Homo sapiens: one gene and its partner. Each later gene encodes a partner of the first gene's protein in a complex. Each region holds a gene or a part of one and is shown on either strand. Other genes may lie near its edges.

Region 1 (3,500 bases):
GACCCTTAAACTTGCAATGAGAACCATCTGCTTTTTCCAGTACATCAAAAATATTACCAGAAACTACCTATCCTTAAGTAGGTAGCAGGGATTTAACGAAGATGCCCAGATTATTGACTTTTTTTTCTGTAACGTTATGACTGCTCTGGATAAGCCACGGGCGACCTCTTGTGCAGAAGCTCTGGCTGGCAACTCTGAGTGTTTCCAAATACTAGACTTCCTCTAAGGGGACAAGGGCTTTCAATACTTGCACTTTTGGAAGGATGTGGAACTAAGGAATATTTTGTTAGTAACACAATCTCATCCAAAGTTTTCATTTTACAGAGAAGATAATCAGAGCTCAGAAAGCTCAAGGTGCTTGCCCAAGATCACACAGCAAGTCAGAGGCAGAACTTTTAGGGGAAAGGGCCAGGACTTATTAAAGAGGGGCAGCATAGATGCATGCAGATAGATTCCACTTTAACCTCCTCCTCCACTTTGGAATCTATACTTCATAGGACTAGAAGATAGCCAGGCAAGGTGGATGTGGTGGTATTATCCCCATTAGCCAGTTTAAACAACTGAGGCACAGAGAGATCTGTAAAGTGCCCGAGGTCACACAGGTATCTAGGACTAGAATCCAGGTCTCCTGAATCTTAAGCCAGTGGTCCTCCTTCCTATATCAAAACAAGATGGCAGAATAAGACCGGAGCAGCCACTCAACCCTGCCCCTCCTGACCGACGGCTCCCAGTCCCACTGCCCATGGCCAGCCATGATGATCTACCATAGCCCGGCTGGCCTCTGAGTCAACGCAGCTGGCCTGTGCCTGGAGCCGCTTACCTGTGTGCTGGATGGCCCCACAGCACGCCGGGGCACCTTGATATCAAATCCACCTTTGGGGTCCTTCTCCCCTCTCAAGCATGGGTCATTAGGGGGCTCTCGCCCTCCCTCCCAGTCACAGATGGTCTTTCGAATTGCCTGTAGGACGCTGGGGAAGGAAGAACTAAGACTTAGACCAGGTTTCACCATGGGAAAACGTCACTACAAGCTTGTGTTTCTAGGGCCCGTGGTGTCCCAGGAACACCCACATTTGAATTCTTGGGGTGCTTGTAAAGCATGCTCATTTCTGCCCCAATTCCAAAACTCTGGTTTAACAGATTTAAGGTACAGTCCAGGAATCTGTGTTTAAACAAGTGTCCTACATGGTTCTGATGTCCAAGGGATGTCTGAGAACTCAGCTCTGAGCCCATCGAGTGAGACAGAACTTGTGTGAGGCAAGAGGTCTGTATTTCCTTTCTGGTTATAGGGGAGTCTCACCGGTCTTATGAAATCTGTGTGTGCTTAGTTTTCATAATAGCTTAGATGTGCTGCATACTTACTCCATGCTGCATGTGCTTAGGTCTATATATGGACCATCTCATTTCATCATCCCAACAGGCAGCAGGTAGCATTATAATCCCCATTTTACAAATGAGGAAAACTGAGGTTTGGAGAAGGTCAGCAACCTGACCAAGTTCACACAGCTAGATAGCAGTGGATATGGACTTCTAGAGATGAAGGCTTAATTCATCCCAAATGCCCAATCTCCTAAAGAGCCCTCTGGAGCTTGCTGGAAGGACCCATGTGTGTTCAGTGGCTGAGCCAGGACATCCTCTCTGATGGGTACCTGGCATGCTTATGTCTGATATGCTCCTGAAGGCATCTGAAAACCCACCTGATGAGGACATTCTTCTTCTTCCGTACCGCCTGCCGCAGGGGCTCACGCAGCGTCACCTGGGCGAAGTCCTGCAATGCCGCGTAGATGGTGTTCCTGATGGCCTGGTTGAAGACGCTCTCCATCCTGCCCATGAGCACCTGCAGGCCTTTGATCATGGCGATCACCTGGGCAGGAAGAGGCCAAGGGTCATGTTCACCATGTCCAGCACACCAGCTGTCTACTACCCATCACCGCCCTGCCAGGGGAGGCGGGGAGTGAGATGTCCAGAGGCATGAGGCCAGTGCTACTCAAAGTGCCAGCGCATGGCTAGGTAAGAGATGTGTGCCAGAATGTACGTATATCAGCACTTGGCTTCATTCATTGAGAAAGTCTTGCTACAAAACACAAATGTCAGCTCAACTAACAGCATTCTTCGCAATGCAACTGATTTTCATCCTCGCATGAGCTCCCAATTTTGTTGTTCACTGCTGACAAATAGCAGCTGGCCCATGGGCCACAATTTGAGCATTTTGAGAAGTGCCTTGGCTTTTGAAGGCCTCTCCATAGACCAGGCACTCACAGACAACATCAAATAGAACTTTTTTAACATAAAATTTTCTAAAGAATTTTTACAACCTTTGTTTTTGAAACCGTTTGGCCAGTTGCTGCTTGAGTTTATAAAATCAAAACTTCTCCTGCAGAAGTCATGGGGGAGAATGCCTCTACTCCCCTATTTCCCTTCTCCTTACCCTAACTCACTTATCTGTTTGGAGAGATGGGGATTCAGGCACGTGTGATGAGAGGAGCCTGGCCTGACCTTGGCTCGCTCTTTTGGGACCTGCCTGCCTGCAAGTATGTGGCCTCCCTTCTAGGTTTCTGGCTGCTTCTTGCAGTAACCATCCCCTGCCCATCCCGAGGAAGGGAGGCGTGTATCTATGCAGCTGCTTTGCCTATTACCTAGTGGCAAGTTTAATGAGATGTAGGAGGCATAGGAACACTGGTGTGGCCTTGGGTGAAAACCACATTCTCTAGTCTAGCTTTACCAGCAGTAAGTCTGAGCCTTTGACTCCATTGGCCTCTAATATTAATTTCTCAATTGATTCAGAATTCAGAGGGAAAGGCATGTGGCAGATCGTCCACCTCACAACTGCCACACAGATCACACCCATAATGGCATGTTCCACCTTCTACACCAGACTGGAAATACACAGGACAGGGCCCAGCTATGCTGTGCACGCCCAACTGCCAGTGTCTGGGTCCATGGTGGGCAGACACATTTTCTGTTGAAAAGGAACAAATAAATGAATGAATGAGCTCAGACCCTAAGGCTGTTTTTTTCTCTAAAACTTAAAGGAAGAAAAAGAACATTTTTAGATAGAACTGGTATGAAAACAACTCAGGAGGTGATGGTTTTCATTGGCACCAACAGTACAACAATTTTGTTGGTGATGAGCTTTAGTGCAGAGAAATAATGGGAGAGAAGCATTAGAGGACTGTTAGATCATAACAGAATCTGGGCCCCTGGCTACAGATATAACTAGGAGACATTAGGAAAAAGGAAGGAGTAAATAATGAAGATGTCTCAGAATGGCTCCAAATACAGAGGAGTGGGCAGGCCTGTTGGATCTAAAGGAAAAATCTTTACAACTCTAGACAAGGCAAAGATTTCTTAGCTGAAACCCCCAAATCACTAACCACCAAATAACTGACAAATTGGACTTCATCAAAATTAAAAACAGCTGCTCTTCAAAAGGCACCCTTAAAAAATGAAAAGGCAAAGTCACTGATGAGAAAAAATATTTGCGACATATATTTGACTGAAGA
Region 2 (3,500 bases), on another chromosome or scaffold:
GAGGCGGGCGGATCACCTGAGGTCGGAGTTCAAGACAAACCTGACCAACATGGAGAAACCCCATACCTACTAAAAATACAAAAAAAAAAGAAATCCTGTCTCTACTAAAAATACAAAATTAGCTAAGCATGGTGGCGCACACCTGTAATCCCAGCTACTCTGGAGGCTGAGGCAGGAGAATGGTTTAAACCCAGGAGGCGGAGGTTGCAGAGAGTCAAGACTGCACCACTGCACTCCAGCCTGGGCAACAGAGCGAGACTCCATCTCAAAAAAAAAAAAAAAAAAAAAAAAAGTGGCCGGGTGCAGAGGCTCACGCCTGTAATCCCAGCACTTTGGGAAGCCGAGGTGGGTGGATCACCTGAGGCAGTGAGCCGAGATTGCACCATTGCACTCCAGCCTGGACAACAAGAGTGAAACTCTGTCTTAAAAAAAAAAAAAGTTTGAGGAATATTTAATGAAATAGGAAAATATTCATGTTACGAAACCAAATGATATTTATGTACTTGTAATTTACAATTTATTTACATGTCTGTTTCACCGTTAGAACAAGTTAATCAAAAGAAGTACATATTGCCTCTTGTAACCTTAGCATCTTGCCTGGTACATAGATGTTGACTGAAAAAAAAAAGATGGATTCTGGTATATTAGTGGAACAAAAGATTGACTCTAGTGTAACTCTATTCACCTTACAAGTGGGAAAACTGAGGTCTAGGTAAGCTGAGGGCCCATGTTGGGTCACTGGTATTCTTTCCCATACTGTGTGCATCCCAATGCACACTACTATCATCTTTCTGTGCCTCCGGGGCTATAATTTATACCCCAGGTCTCCAGCCCAACTCTGCCACTTTCCATTCTTTCACCTGCTTAAAGTATACAATTCAGTGGTTTTTAGTATACTTACAGAGTTGTGCAATAATTATAATCTACTTTTAGAATATTTTCATCATCCCCAAAAGATACCTTATACCTCTTAGTCCTGTCACTCCCCATTCTGTCACCCCTCAGTCCCTGGGAACCACTAATCTTTGTCTCTATGGATTTGCCATTTCTGGACATTCTTCATTCTTTTTACGCTTGTGCTGCTTGAATTCCCAGGTCTAGCTTAAGTATGATCACTTCAGCATCCCCCTTTTCCTGGATGTACTGCCACTTTCTGTCGGAACTGCCCAACAGGACCAAGCCTCTTTTCAGTCTGGTTTTTGGAAGTCTGAAAGCACGTTATGTATGCTACTGAGTAAGAGCATGAATATTATCTCTGACAACCTGCCATTTCCCATGAAGACATACGAAAATTATTGGGGGAGGTAGGAGAGAGGGAAGTTTCCTTCCTGGGTGGCTATTCTGTTCTAGCTGTCAATCTGGTAATGAATTAGAATTCAAGAACAATACTATGCTCCTGGCCTACATGGATAAACACTGTTGAGAAATAGAAAATGTTCAACTGCAGAAACCTTGGTCATATTTCAAATCCTAATAAGTATACGCTGGTTCAAATAAAAAACACTGAGAAAGCATTCAGCAGCTGGATAAATCTGAAACCAGAGCACAAGTATGTGTACATTATCACCAGCCTTTAACTGAAAATACCAGTTCTCGTTAGGAAACAAATGCTGTTATCAGACAGCTCCTTCTCTGAACTTAATGCATATAACTTCAGCATTACAAAAATCAATACTGTCAGGCCGGGCACGGTGGTTCACACCTGTAATCCCAGCACTTTGGGAGGCTGAGGTGGGCAGATCACTTGAGGTCAGGAGTTTGAGACCAGCCTGGCTAACATGGCAAAACCCCATCTCTACTACTAATACAAAAAGTAGCTGGGCATGGTTGTGTGTGCCTGTAATCCCAGCTATTTGGGAGGCTGAGGCAGGAGAATCAGTTGAACCCAAGAGGCAGAGGTTGCAGTGAGTCAAGATTGCACCACTGTACTCAAGCCTGGGCAACACAGCAAGACTCCATCTTAAAAAAAAAAAAAGAATTAGCCAGGCGTGGTGGCGCATGCCTGTAGTCCCAGCTACTCAGGAGGCTGAGGCAGAAGAATCGCTTGAACCCGGGAGGCGGAGGTTGCAGTGAGCCGAGATTGCACCACTGCACTCCAGCCTGGGCGACAGAATGAGACTCTGTCTCAAAAAAAAAACAAAAACTGTCTTTCTTTTGGAATGTTTTTGTAGTTAAGTCTTACTTTTCCAGCAAAATTCTGAATGTCTTAGGAGTGGGTATCATACCCATTTATTCATATTTATTCCTTTCTCACAGCATCTGACACACACCAGGCATGCTACATTTGTTGGCTCAGTACAAAAACCAAGATTTTAAAAAAACAGCCACATTCTCTATTTTGTCTTTATACTTCTCTGCATATATTACCTTTAGAACCAGAAAAAAATAGCATAAGAATAAAAAGCGATAATCTCTAACCATCTATTTTTAGAAACTTCACCAATTCCAAAGTGCAAAATAGGCCTAGTGTTATGATATTTTTGCTACATTACGATTTGTATGTCCTCAAGTTCACGTGGGAGACTGTGACTCTACTCTCACCAGCAGGAATCACAAGGTAAATGCTTTTCAGAAAGTCATTCACTATCTTAGAACAACAGTTCTCTCTCCAAAATACATGGCCCATGCAGATTCTCTGTGGTCAGGGTAAGGACTACAGAATTGCTAACATATTTGAAGAACTTCAGATGCTCCCTCAAAGTAAATTCTTTTTCTTTGAGAGAGAGTCTCACTCTGTCACCCAGGCTGGAGTACAGTGGCACGATCTTGGCTCACTGCAACCTTTGCCTCCAGGGTTCAAGTGATTCTCATGCCTCAGCCTCCCAGGTAGCTTGGAATTACAGGCATGAGACACCATGCCTGGCTAATTTTTGTATTTTTTATAGAGATGGGGTTTCGCCATATTGGCCAGGCTGGTCTCAAACTCCTGAGCTCAAGTGATTCACCTGCCTCGGCCTCCCAAAGTGCTGGGATTATAGGCATGAGCCACTGTGCCTGGCCTCAAAGTAAATTCTTTTTTTTTTTTTTTTTTGAGATGGAGTCTTGCTCTTTCGCCCAGGCAGGAGTGCAGTGGCGCGAGTGCAGAGCTTGCAGTGAGCCGAGATCGCACCACTGCACTCCAGGCAACAGAACAAGACTCCGTCTCAAAAAAACAAACAAAACAAACAAACAAAAAAAACCATTAGGAAAAGGAAATATATTTACTATTCATTAAATGGCAGTGGATCATCATAAAGGTCTTCATCCTCATTGTCTTCCTGCTGAGTAGGCTGAGGAAGAAGGGGAAGAAGAGAGGTTGGTTTTGCTACCTCATGGGTGGCAGAGGTGGAAGGGGAGGCAGGAGAGGTAGGCATACTGTATAACTTTTATCGCAATAAATCCACTTATGGCCAGGCACAGTGGCTCATGCCTGTAATCCCAGCACTTTGGGAGGTTGAACAGAGGTGGATCACTTGAGGCCAGGAGTTCAAGAGCAGCATGGCCAACATGGCGAATCCTGT

What was found. The genes of interacting proteins can lie anywhere in the genome.
Region 2: CYFIP2 (region 1) and BRK1 share a complex: the UniProt entries of both Homo sapiens proteins name them as parts of the WAVE1 complex.

What each region holds. Positions count from the first base shown.
Region 1 is NC_000005.10:157,318,123-157,321,622, reverse strand, and holds part of CYFIP2 (cytoplasmic FMR1-interacting protein 2), read right to left. Parts: intron 1,862-3,500; coding exon 1,695-1,861; intron 969-1,694; coding exon 821-968; intron 1-820. UniProt on the Homo sapiens protein: Involved in T-cell adhesion and p53/TP53-dependent induction of apoptosis. Does not bind RNA. As component of the WAVE1 complex, required for BDNF-NTRK2 endocytic trafficking and signaling from early endosomes.
Region 2 is NC_000003.12:10,118,675-10,122,174, reverse strand, and holds part of BRK1 (protein BRICK1), read right to left. Parts: intron 1-3,500. UniProt on the Homo sapiens protein: Involved in regulation of actin and microtubule organization. Part of a WAVE complex that activates the Arp2/3 complex. As component of the WAVE1 complex, required for BDNF-NTRK2 endocytic trafficking and signaling from early endosomes.